Homo sapiens: one gene and its partners. The protein of the gene in region 1 purifies or fractionates together with the protein of each later gene. This does not show direct contact. Each region holds a gene or a part of one and is shown on either strand. Other genes may lie near its edges.

Region 1 (2,561 bases):
GTGTTGGCCATGGGGGTGGGGAGGGGTGAGAGGCCCCAGTATCTGCCACTGGTGGAAATGGTATCAGTGAAATCCTGATCAGAAATTTGGGATGGAAAAGGAAACAATGAGAAAAGGGCTGTGGGAACCTCCTCTCCAGAGTGGTAGTTGGGCCCCCCCAGTGTGCCCCCATGGAGGCACAGGAGTGTGCAGAGTGAAGCCCCTGGAGGGGCATTCCCTCTAAGCTCCAGGGAAGATGGAACAGGGCCACCCTTTCTCCCCTGGACATGGCCTGGCCAAGCCTGGCCTGTTCACTTCTGTCCTCATGGCTCTGGATGCCTAAGGATTTCTGGGCTTCCCGCCCAGGCACTGACCCCTTCTTCCCACCACCCTATCTCCAGGAAGGCCTCCTGAATGCTCCCCACACTGACCCCTTCTTCCCACCACCCTATCTCCGGGAAGGCCTCCTGAATGCTCCCCACACTGACCCCTTCTTCCCACCACCCTATCTCCGGGAAGGCCTCCTGAATGCTCCCCACACTGACCCCTTCTTCCCACCACCCTACCTCCGGGAAGCCCTCCTGAATGCTCCCGGCGCTGACCCCTTCTTCCCACCACCCTATCTCCGGGAAGGCCTCCTGAATGCTCCCGGCGCTGACCCCTTCTTCCCACCACCCTACCTCCGGGAAGGCCTCCTGAATGCTCCCCGCGCTGACCCCTTCTTCCCACCACCCTACCTCCAGGAAGCCCTCCTGAATGCTCCCCGCGCTGACCCCTTCTTCCCACCACCCTATCTCCGGGAAGCCCTCCTGAATGCTCCCCACGCTGGCCCCTTCTTCCCACCACCCTACCTCCGGGAAGGCCTCCTGAATGCTCCCCACGCTGGCCCCTTCTTCCCACCACCCTACCTCCGGGAAGCCCTCCTGAATGCTCCCCACGCTGGCCCCTTCTTCCCACCACCCTATCTCCGGGAAGCCCTCCTGAATGCTCCCCGCGCTGACCCCTTCTTCCCACCACCCTATCTCCGGGAAGCCCTCCTGAATGCTCCCCCGGCGAGCATCTAAGCTCCAGTGCCCCTCCTCCCCAGCCCGTGATACTGACCATGGCCTTTGGCACCACAGGGCTTCGTGGGCTGAGGTGAAGGTAGCCTGGCTGTCCAGCTGACCTATCTGGCCTAAAAACGAGAGGTGCAGGGGATGTGGTTGGTCCCCAGTGCTCTGCTGTTAACTCTGGGGCTCCGAGCAGTGACACAACTGTTGGCCGTTACCAGGACCATGGTCCAGGCTGGGGCACCGTGGGGCAGCTGGGCCTACTGCTCAGAAAGCCGGAGGGTGGGAGCTGAGTATGAGGGTCCCTTGTGGCCACCTCAGCAGCCCAGGTTTAGGGGACTTCACGGGCTCTGGGATTGCCCAGGTAGCTGGTGTGGGGACATCCTTGGGGTCCTGTGCCTTCCGTGATGCCTGGCCTCGTGCTAAATGCTGATGGTTTTCTCAAGGGCACTTGGGAAAGGAGGAATCTGGGGAATGGAGGGTCCTGCTGAGAGGACTTGACCTGCAAGGTGAATCCATGACTGCCGGTTCCCAGCCCAGCCTGGCTGTGGCCTGAGGTATCTTCGGCCTGCGGTCTGGTTGTCTAGCAGGGCTGGAGGAGACAACTGGTGCCCTCAATAGCCACATTCAGCCTCAGCAGGAGCAAGAGAAGAGGCAGGATGGAGACGGGGCAAGGTCCCTGGCTAGACCTGGGCGGCTGACACACCCTGAGCTGGGGAGATGAGGTCCAGGCTGGGCACTGTTAGGGTGAGTGGACCCCCATCCCTTCCCGCCCTGAGCAGAAACTGACTGCCCACAGGTCCTAGTCCGGCGACTTCCTAATGGCACAGAACTCCGAGGCCGCATCGTGGAGACCGAGGCATACCTGGGGCCAGAGGATGAAGCCGCCCACTCAAGGGGTGGCCGGCAGACCCCCCGCAACCGAGGCATGTTCATGAAGCCGGGGACCCTGTACGTGTACATCATTTACGGCATGTACTTCTGCATGAACATCTCCAGCCAGGGTGAGCAGTGCTGGGGCACGGGGGGTTGGAGGGCCGGCAGAGCCCTGTCCGCTAGCAGCCAGGGGACCACTAGGAGGACTGAGGTGGGGCCAGCATTTGAGCGAGGAGGTGCCACTTCCAGGCCAGGCCAGGGTTTCGGGAGCTCTGGCTACGCTGACGGGGCAGGGCTGGTTAGGTTAAAGGGGTAGAAAGGGCCGGGTGGGGCCGGGCGCGGTGGCTCACGCCTGTCATCCCAGCACTTCGGGAGGCCGAGGCGGGCGGATCACCTGAGGTCAGGAGTTCGACACCAGCCTGGCCAACACGGTGAAACTCTGTCTCTACCAAAAATACAAAAATTAGCTGGGTGTGGTAGTGGGCTCCTGTAATCCCAGCTACTAGGGAGGCGGAGGCAGGAGAATCGCTTGAACCCGGGAGGCGGAGGTTGCAGGGAGCCAAGATCGCGCCATTGCACTCCAGCCTGGGTGACAGAGCGAGACTCCATCTCAAAAAAAAAAAAAAAGGAAAGGAAAAGAAAGGGTTGGTTGGAGTG
Region 2 (3,310 bases), on another chromosome or scaffold:
ATTAGTGCATAATTTCTCAGTGAATAAAGTTGTAGCTCTCATATACTAAATAGACAAGTTTACATGCTGTTATTTAGAAAATGACTAAAATATTAAAAACCGTGTTGTGTTAATCTGTTTTAAGTCATACCATGTTCAGAGTTCTATGTAAGGTGGGTTTTATTTTTCTTTTAAGGGATAGTTTGTAATAGTAAGAACTGTCCCATATGTTAGTAAATTACATATGTACAAATTGAAACTGTAAATTGTGAACACTGGAAAGCACCATTGTGACATAGAGTAAACATCTTAGTAATATATTAAAGTGAATGTAAATGGTGGTTAAAATTACATTACTGTGAAATTCATCTTCCAACTCTAAGTTAAGCTTTGGAGATACATGTTAGTGGTTAACTGTTAAGAGCTTTGAAAACACTGCACATATCTGTACAAGCCAGAATTACTATTTCTTTGACTTATTATTAGCTTGGCAGTTGCTTTTGATTTGATTGTTTTATGACATGGTATACTACTATATTTACTCAGTTTGAAACTATTCATTTCTACACACTATTTTTAAAAATTGCCTACTAGGTGAAACATAACAATAAAACTACCTGTGCTGAAATTTGGGGGAAGTTTAGGTCCTTTAAAAAAACATATTAATCATTGACTACATCTATGATAAAAGTGCTTATTTTGGTTTACTAAGATAATGCAGTTGGTGGAAATGATAAACGTTTTAAGTGTTAACATCCTTTGAATGCGTTGGATTTCAGAGAATAAACATTTTGTAAAAATCACTTGGTAAGGATTATAAACTTAATTACTGCACTTAAAATGAAACATTACTTTTTTTAAACAATGTGTCACAAATGTAGGTCTGTATTACTTGTATGCTTGTGTGACTTACTGTTAGTCCAGCTCTAAAAATTTAAAGGTTGTAATTGAAATACAAGAAAAGAGCCTTCTTTTAGAAGAAAGCAAGTATATTTTTGCTTTTACTTCAAATGTTATTTAAAGTAGAAATTTAATTTGTAGATATAACCTTTAAAAATTTTCTCATTAAGACAATGTTTTTAATTTAATTTGCCTCATTACATCTAATAGTTCCCATTTGATGGCATGTATAGGGAAGAGTGAGAGAGTGTGTGTGTGTGTATGTGTGTGTAATATTTATATATATTCACAGTATGTATTTAGCATTTATTTTATTACAGCAGATTTAAAGTTTGTATCTAAATAATGCCTATGAGTTGTGTGAAGCTCTTGGCTTTTTTCCAACGTTACTTTGTAACTAATGAGGGTGGATGTTCATTGTAGTTTATTTATTTGGTTCTTTAGATGGAGGAATTTAAAAAATCAAATTTTTCTCTTCACCTTTATGACTTGACATTTCCTTGATCTGTTGGAGGCTAAAAGTAGGTATAAATGATATTGAATGTTGGGTATAGTGATACTCTGCCATAGTTCTTACTGCATGAAGAGAACAAGAGTCACACAAGTTCACCACTTTGCACTTCATAGAGAAGGTACATAGAGACATTGCAAAACCTGTCTCCATTTGCTATCCTGATAATTAAGGTTTTCATAATACCTAGGGCCTGTCTCTGAGTAATTTTAATTTTGCCAAATACACTGACATTTAAAATAGTGATCCATCTAAATTTTTTTCAGCTGGGTTTTGAGGAATATAAGAGCTTTCAATGATAAAGGTTTGTTGTAGTTGTCTTATGTGCTGAATTTGCAGATGATCAGATGCTGTGCAGAATTCTGATTTATTTTTGTTTCCTAAAATTAAGATAGCTTGAATATTATTTCACATTCCTTTTTCTTTTTTAAATAAACAGGTTTGCTTTGGAAAGGCTTAATGATGGAATGTTAGCATCTTCACTAGGGTAAAGAAGAACAAAAAGAATGTTGCTGGAACGTAAAATAGTATTTAAAAGTTAATGAACACTTCTCTAGTTTTCTTAGTTATGGCCTTAATAATTAGTCTCTTGGCTTAAATGTCCACTGGTTTTACTTTGACACAGTTGAACAACACTGGGGTTAAGTCTCTGGTATTTAGGCTGGCAATATATATATTAACCATATTTTAAAAGTACCAATTTTGTTTTTACAGAAAAGATAAAACTCAAAAGAGAACAGTGTATTCCTTCTGAGGGGCTTTTATAAATTATTAACTATAATATATGATGGATTTTTTCCTAATTTTTTATATTTCCTTACAATTTTGGTGGCCATTAATTTAACTTTAGGCTTTTGGGCATATGCTAGTCTGAGCTTCCGAAAAGATACATATATGTTTCCCTTTTCATTAGCTGAATGAGGATATTTTAAGAAGTTGAAAGAGAATTTATTTTCAAGTTGTGAGTAAATCCTCCTTTGAAATTCACCTGATTATTAGATAACTTAAAGTTTATTTTTAAAAGCTGACAACTTTTTATGAATCTTCGAGTTGACAGTTCCTAAAAGCGTAACTCAGATATTAATGGGCTGTGTATTAAATGGTTTTATTTTCAGTTTTGCAGCACAGAACACTGTTGAAATATCCATATCAACTTGATTTTTTTAACCTAATTCAGGTGTCCTTTGCATCTCTTAAATGTTGGGGGTGGGGGTCAGAGCCAGTTATCCGGCTTCTGTTTTGTCGATTGCTTAGATTTGTTCCTGTTGTCAAAACTGTTACCCCCAAAATTGGTGTGACACATGCTCATGCATAAAATGTTAAAATGAGTACATCCTTGTATTTGTATTTGTTTTCAACATCGCCAAGGTGCTATGGGAAATTAACAAAATTAGAAAAAAAATAAAATTATTAAAAAGCAGGACTGGTTTCCTTTTCTCTAGGTGGTGTATGTCTAATGACTACTTCTGTCTACCTTTCAGTATTATATGTTGCCCTCGCTAATTCTATTATTATTATTGTCTAAGTTGTTTTTTGGATGATGAGGGCAGTGGGAAGTAATGGTGTTTCACTTAAAACAAGGGCAGAGAGACAAGATACAGCTTTATGATCCTGGGGTATTCTTTTAGTTATTTTAGTATCAGAAGCAGTTATTAAAGGGTGAAAAATGGCTGGGCGCGGTAGCTCACGCCTGTAATCCCAACACTTTGGGAGGCCAAGGCGGGCGGATCACCTGGGGCCAGGAGTTCAAGCCCACCCTGGCCAACATGGTGAAACCCCATCTCTACTAAAAATACAAAAATTAGCCAGGCATGGTGGTGGGCACCTGTAATCCCAGCTACTTGGGAAGCTGAGGCAGGAGAATCGCTTGAACCTGGAAGGTGGACATGGCAGTGAGCCAGGATCGCGCCATTGCACTCT
Region 3 (3,500 bases), on another chromosome or scaffold:
CTTTGGGAGGCTGAAATGAGAGGATGACTTGAGGCCAGGAGTTTAAGACAAGCCCGCACAACATAGGGAGACTACATCGATACAAAAAATTTGAAAATTAGCTGGGCATGGTGGCATGTACCTGTAGTCCTAGCTACTCAGAAGGCTAGGATAGGAGGATCGTTTGAGCCCACAAGTTGGAGGGTATGTTGAGCTACAATCGTGCCACTGCACTCCAGTCTGGGCAACAGAGCTAGGCTGAAGCAGGCAGATCACCTGAGGTCAGGAGTTCGAGACCAGCCTGGTCAACACGGCGAAACCCTGTCTCTACTAAACATACAAAAATTAGCCAGGTGTGGTGGCACGCACCTATAATCCCAGCTACACACGGGAGGCTGAGGCAGGAGAATGGCTTGAACCCAGGAGGTAGAGGTTGCAGTGAGCTGAGATTGTGCTGCTGCACTCCAGCCTGGGCGAGGAAAGTAAGACTCCATCTCGAAAAAAAAAAAAAAAAAAAGTAGGCCAGGCGCGGTGGCTCACGCCTGTAATCCCAGTACTTTGGGGGGCCGAGGCGGGCGGATCACGAGGTCAGGAGATCAAGACCATCCTGGCTAACACAGTGAAACCCCGTCTCTACTAAAAATACAAAAAATTAGCCGGGCGAGCTGGCGGGCGCCTGTAGTCCCAGCTACTCGGGAGGCTGAGGCAGGAGAATGGCGTGAACCCCGGGGGGCGGAGCCTGCAGTGAGCCGAGATGGCGCCACTGCACTCCAACCTGGGCGACAGTGAGACTCCATCTCAAAAAAAAGAAAGTAAAAATAAAGACTAAAAATGACACCTTATTAAGAATGGAACAAAAGAAAAGAGAGCTAAGATAACACCCACGGCCACAGAGAGAGAGCAAGAAAAATCCACTGACGAATTCCTTGTCTTAAGCTCCCATTACACTCCTCCCTCCATTTTTAACTTTATGTAGACTGCTATCCATCTTATAACACACTCATTCTTCAGACACATCACAATGCACATGATCAGATTACAGCTTTCTTTACCTTAAGGATGTCTTCAACCACCACAAGCCCTTTCCAAATTCCCTACGTAGATAAAATTTGGCTTTTCTAGATATCCATCAGCCATCCAAATAAACCATCTCTTAAAATGGGCTACTAATAGAAATGACTCTTGCTCGTTCACTCTCTCTCTCACATGCAAGCAGAATTCAGCATTACTTTTACATGCAGAAAATTTTAAAATAATAGCCTAATTAGAGTTTTCTCCACAACATAATTTGAAAACCTGGAAATGGTAGTTTTAACGGAAAATTATGACAAAATCTTGAAAGAATAAATTTTAGCAAAACTACCACATCAATTCAGATAAATCCAGATTGGCTACATAAACAGTCTGTTGCATACTTTCAGCACAATGAAATCTAACCCTTTCAAGCAGTGATATCAGATTCCACATTCTCAACCTTCTCACCTTTCCGAAGGCAGATGCTCCAGCACAGATGTGTGTGTAATTGAACTGCTTCTGAGTTGCCAAAATCAATGGTGTCAGTTCCTCTGAGAATTAAACACATTTGATAAAAAAATATTTTGAAATACTTTCATATTCATATATTCAAGCGTAATTTAGACACTACATTTTTTTCTACTGGAAAACCTCACCTGGAAGTAGGCCTTTGTACACATCATGCTGAGCCACCAGAACTTTTGCTATGCCTGCTACTTTACAGAGATCTTGTGCCACCTATGATTAAAAGATAAGTTCCTAATTATCCATCTATCAGAAATATACAAATAAAGCCACCACTATAAATATCAACAGATCATAAAATCTTAATGGCCAACTGTAAAAATTATTCTTATTAGCAAAAGGGCCAGTTAAGAATTAAAATATATTCCGGCCGGGCGCAGTGGCTCAAGCCTGTAATCCCAGCACTCTGAGAGGCTGAGGCAGGCAGATCACCGGAGTCAAGAGTTCAAGACCAGCCTGGCCAACATGGTGAAACCCCATCTCTACTAAAAATACAAAAATTAGCTAGGCATGGTGGCGGGCACCTGTAATCCCAGCTACTTGGGAGACTGAGGCAAGAGAATGGCTTGAACCCAGGAGGCGGAGGTTACAGTGAGCCAAGATCACACCACTTCACTCCAGACTGGGCGAAAGAGTGAAACTCCATCTCAAACAAACAAAGAATTAAAATATTAAAATACATTCCTTAACAAAGAAAATCTAATGCCAATAGATCTTACTACTGACTGACCTTACACTGTCCAACTACCAAGCATTTCAACAAAAATTCCTGCCTTGAAAAAGAAAAGTGCTAATTGACAAACCAAAATCAACATGGCTCTTTATTCAAATTTTGTTATAAATTGTGCTTTTTACTTTTGGTTCAATCCAAGTGTAAGTTCAATGTCCTGGAAATGGTGAAAATGAAGTTCTCTAGTAACATCCCATTGTCAACCACTGAGTTCCTGCCCACATACACATATTTATCTATGACAAAGCAAAATATTTCCTATTTTAATTCTTCATTTTTCCTGTTTGGAATTAGAATGGGGTTCTGAGAAAGCTTTTTGATGATTCAGATTTTCTATATTCAGAAGGCAATTAGATTTCCCCTTTTTAAGTATCTTTATTACCTCATGGCTGGTTTCCACTTTAGCTAAGTCATATCAGTCATACTATCGTCTTCTGTCTCCTTGTTTACCTCCAAACTGATTCATTGATTCACTGATGAGTAGGATTAAAAGGCTGTGCCTTGTGCCACCCTCATATGAACTGTTAGCTTGCAACAATATTCACTGAAGAAAGGATGCAGTGCAAGAATACATTCTCTGCTAAACCAAGTGTTCACCGGCATACCATTTGTACTACAGAGGCCCTTTATTATGGATGCAGCTGCATTTAGCTTCTCAAACTTTAAGAGAATTTCCAATTAAGAAACTCAGTTAATTGCAATGTAGCTGCATAGCAGCATGGGATAGAAAATGGGGCAGAATTTTCCCATTGAAACTATCTTGTTTTTACTGGCAAAACGGCTGGCATTATACAGAAGAATAACTTGCTGTTTATGACAAGTAGCTGAATAAAATGGTATAAAACCGAACTCTATTAAACGATCTCTTCATACAGGTACTGGTTGTTTTCTTTAAAATTAGAACATGACAGGTTAGGATTGTAACTGAGTACAGAAGACGATTTCTATTTTGATTTTTCTCAAAGTAGTATAAAGTATCAAAGTCTTTTTAAAGTAATATTACAATAATTATTTTAAATCACAGCAAAACAAACAACAAATCACAAATTCCTATATATCCAAAAACAGGGAAACCAAAAAGATAGCTTAGCCATCATATACTGTGGCTAATACAGACATACAAATAGATAGCTTAGCCATCACACATCACACATTGTGGCTGTATCAACTATGTAAGATCCTACAGTTGTTAGCAGGAATTGGGTAAAGAAATCCACATAACTAATCATAAACCCACCAGAATATGTTCTTT
Region 4 (3,500 bases), about 59 Mb from region 1:
AGCGAGACTCTGTCTCAAAAAAAAAAAAAAAGTTTGTCAGAATAGCAATTCAATTTTATTTAACACAAATTTGTATTTTTCATAATTTTAAATATATAAGAGTAATATGGCCGGGTGCGGTGGATCACTTGAGGTCTGGAGTTTAAAACCAGCCTGGCCAACATGGTGAAACCCCATCTCCACTAAAAATACAAAAATTAGCTGACGTGGTAATGCATGCCTGTAATCCCAGCTACTTGGGAGGCTGGAGTGGGAGAATCACTTGAGCCCAGGAGGCAAACGCTGCAGTGAGCCAAGATAGCACCACTGCACTCCAGCCTGGGCAACAGAGCAAGAGTCTATCTCATAAATAAATAAGTAAAATGGATCTTGGATCTAGCTAATGGGATTGAGCTAATGTGTTTCTCATTTCAGCTCCTGGTGGACCCATGTGGAAATGGGACCTCCAGATCCCATTCTGGGAGTCACTGAAGCCTTTAAGAGGGACACCAATAGCAAAAAGATGAATCTGGGAGTTGGTGCCTACCGGGATGATAATGGAAAGCCTTACGTTCTGCCTAGCGTCCGCAAGGTGAGCTTGCTGTTCATCTCCTTTTGAATGGGATGAATAAACTGAAGAGAGCCCTGGAGAGTGGCAGGAATAGTGCTGGACCGGGAATCAGGAGCCCTGGGCTTTAGTTCTGGCACTAATGGCATGAATCACCCGGGTTTTCTGGGCTGTAGTCTCCTTGACTGTAAAGGTGAGAGGTTGGAACCACCTGTTTTTTCCCAAGATTGAACTTTCTATGGTTCTGTGATCATCTATAAAACAGACATTAAATACGCTTTAGAAATGCTTAGCTATGCCTACTTTAATCCTGAAGGTGCATAAGAGGACCAAGACTTTAAGCGCTGTCTCTTGTTGAGAGGAATAGCTCTTCGTGGATTACTATTTTTATTTTCCATTTCTCTAACTGTGATTACTTTAATCAAACCTTTGTACACAGGCATGCTCTGTCCTTTCTTCCTGCTGAGCTATGCAATTTTCACCTCTTTCTTTTGTTATATTTTTATTAGTAGCATCTTTATTTGTTAACTAAATAATATAACAAATCCCCTTAGAATAATTTTTTAAGTTATTCAGCAAGTATTTGCTACTGCAACCTGCATCACTACCAAGCACTATTGTACATTCCCTCATTCACACTTCACCTCAACACTGTGAGAGGTAGAAATAGTTCCTCCATTTAACAGAGGAGGAAACTGAGGCTCAGGAAGGCTAAATAACTTGCCTAGGGTAACACAACTTGTAAGGGACAGCCAGGCTTCCAATGCCAAAGCACGAAGATGTGTGGCTATTACTGTTAACACTTCGAAGTTCTTAGACTGGCATATAGCTTGACATGCTTTCTCTTTTGTATTTAGTTTGATTTAATCATCTTATATCTATTTTAGGTGTTGCTCTTAAACCTTGGTCTTGTGCATTCCAAGAATCTCATTTTATGTTAAATTGTAACCAAGAGAGACTATACCCATCCACATAAAACCTAACTTAAACAATAAAATACAATTTGAAAAAGAAAGTATTTCTGTTCTGCAATACAAACTATCAAGCATTCTACCTACCCTTCTTCTCAGAGAGTAACTTCAAATTTTAAAAAAAGGTTTGGCCGGGCGCAGTGGCTCATGCCTGTAATCCCAGCACTTTAGGAGGCCGAGGCAGGTGGATCACCTGAGGTCAGGAGTTCGAGACCAGCCTGGCCAACATAGTGAAACCCCGTATCTACTAAAAATACAAAATTAGCTGGGCGTGGTGGTGCACGCCTGTAATCCCAGCTACTCGGGAGGCTGAAGCAAGACAATCACTTGAACCCGGGAGGTGGAGGTTGCAGTGAGCCGAGATCACACTACTGCACTCCAGCCTGGGTGACAGAGCAAAACTCCATCTCAAAAAAAAAAGACTTTACCTCCAAAACTTAACTTATAAAACTTTAAACATTAATCATAGTAATTCCAAGTAAGGAGAAGAAATTCAATGGATGTATTTTCTCTTGTCTAGGCAGAGGCCCAGATTGCCGCAAAAAATTTGGACAAGGAATACCTGCCCATTGGGGGACTGGCTGAATTTTGCAAGGCATCTGCAGAACTAGCCCTGGGTGAGAACAGCGAAGTCTTGAAGAGTGGCCGGGTAAGCTGAGCAGGCTCTGGCATCATCCCAGGTCTGTTTTAACAAATTTGTAATTATTTAAACAATTTTAGGCCAGGCGCGATGGCTCACGCCTGTAATCCCACCACTTTGGGAGGCCAAGGCGGGTGGTTCATCTGAGGTCGGGAGTTCGAGACCAGCCTGATTAACATGGAGAAACCCCATCTCTACTAAAAATACAAAATTAGCCGGGCATGGTGACACATGCCTGTAATCCCAGCTACTCAGGAGGCTTAGGCAGGAGAATCACTTGAACCTGGAAGGCAGAGGTTGTGGTGAGCCAAGATCATGCCATTGAACTCCAGCCTGGGCAACAACAGCAGAACTCCATCTCAAAAAAAAAAAAAAAATTTAAGAAATATGAAAAGATAACTCATTTTGTGTGTAATGATTGTTTTGAGGAGGCCACACTATTTCTAATAATTCTTATTTGATAGTAAATTGCCATCATTAAATAAAATAATTTACATGACACCAATTCCAAAAATGTACTAGTAGTAATCCTGAAAATGCGGTAGTCATTTGACTGATAGATTTGATGTTACTTTTGCTGTTAGTCTCTACCTGCTTATGTTCATTTTACATCAAATATGCTTTAGAAATGTTAACTATGCCGAGTTTTAAGCCTGCAGTTAGCCCACACCCTCATGTCCTAAGCTTCCAACTTGCACAGAAGCAGCAAGCAGGAAACAAGCCATGGGTGGACTGTGGGGGCTGGACCAGTCTGGCAGCCCTCTGCTGTCCCTTCACAGCCCACATGGACACAGAAAGAAGACCACGCTCCCAACATGTGAACTCGTGCACATTGTGGTTCACTTTCTTTTGAAAAAAACATGTTTTTTAGTGAGTGCATTTGTACGTTTTTCTGGGTAAGCCTGGGGAGTGAAGAAACATACAAACTAGCAAAATTAAGTCAACATTTTTTCTGCCCTTCCCCCTCTGAAAAGCCAGAATAAATACACTTTATTTACAAGACTGGTCTAAGTCCACACATGAATTCGTTAACTCAGAGTAAAGCACACAACCTCAACCCCAGGGTTATGTAGTAATTATCCTACGTCAAATAGAATTTGGTTTAGTTCTGTCCATACAGTCAACTGCCTGTTAGCCCCTCCTGGAAATTTCTGTACTTTTTAATTCATGTGCTCTTTTGCCTAGTCTCTGCTCCATCTAAATAACAACCTAAGTATGAAACTGGCCTACCTTAAAATAACATCAGCTTGTCTTTTATAAGTTGTTGTGCCTCAGCCGGGCGCAGTGGCTCACTCCTGTAATCCCAGCACTTTCCGGGACCAAGGCGGGTGGATCACCTGAG

Evidence for each region. The genes of interacting proteins can lie anywhere in the genome.
Region 2: the proteins of MPG (region 1) and LARP4 purify together in Homo sapiens (affinity purification with mass spectrometry, with the first as the bait; one study listed by BioGRID). This does not show direct contact.
Region 3: the proteins of MPG (region 1) and ETFA purify together in Homo sapiens (co-immunoprecipitation; one large-scale study listed by IntAct). This does not show direct contact.
Region 4: the proteins of MPG (region 1) and GOT2 purify together in Homo sapiens (affinity purification with mass spectrometry; one large-scale study listed by BioGRID and IntAct). This does not show direct contact.

Annotation. Positions count from the first base shown.
Region 1 is NC_000016.10:81,225-83,785, forward strand, and holds part of MPG (DNA-3-methyladenine glycosylase), read left to right. Parts: intron 1-1,827; coding exon 1,828-2,032; intron 2,033-2,561. UniProt on the Homo sapiens protein: Hydrolysis of the deoxyribose N-glycosidic bond to excise 3-methyladenine, and 7-methylguanine from the damaged DNA polymer formed by alkylation lesions.
Region 2 is NC_000012.12:50,477,195-50,480,504, forward strand, and holds the end of LARP4 (la-related protein 4), read left to right. Parts: 3' UTR 1-2,810; downstream 2,811-3,310. UniProt on the Homo sapiens protein: RNA binding protein that binds to the poly-A tract of mRNA molecules. Associates with the 40S ribosomal subunit and with polysomes. Plays a role in the regulation of mRNA translation.
Region 3 is NC_000015.10:76,290,970-76,294,469, forward strand, and holds part of ETFA (electron transfer flavoprotein subunit alpha, mitochondrial), read right to left. Parts: intron 1,732-3,500; coding exon 1,650-1,731; intron 1,545-1,649; coding exon 1,462-1,544; intron 1-1,461. UniProt on the Homo sapiens protein: Heterodimeric electron transfer flavoprotein that accepts electrons from several mitochondrial dehydrogenases, including acyl-CoA dehydrogenases, glutaryl-CoA and sarcosine dehydrogenase.
Region 4 is NC_000016.10:58,720,817-58,724,316, reverse strand, and holds part of GOT2 (aspartate aminotransferase, mitochondrial isoform 1 precursor), read left to right. Parts: intron 1-414; coding exon 415-571; intron 572-2,038; coding exon 2,039-2,167; intron 2,168-3,500. UniProt on the Homo sapiens protein: Catalyzes the irreversible transamination of the L-tryptophan metabolite L-kynurenine to form kynurenic acid (KA). As a member of the malate-aspartate shuttle, it has a key role in the intracellular NAD(H) redox balance.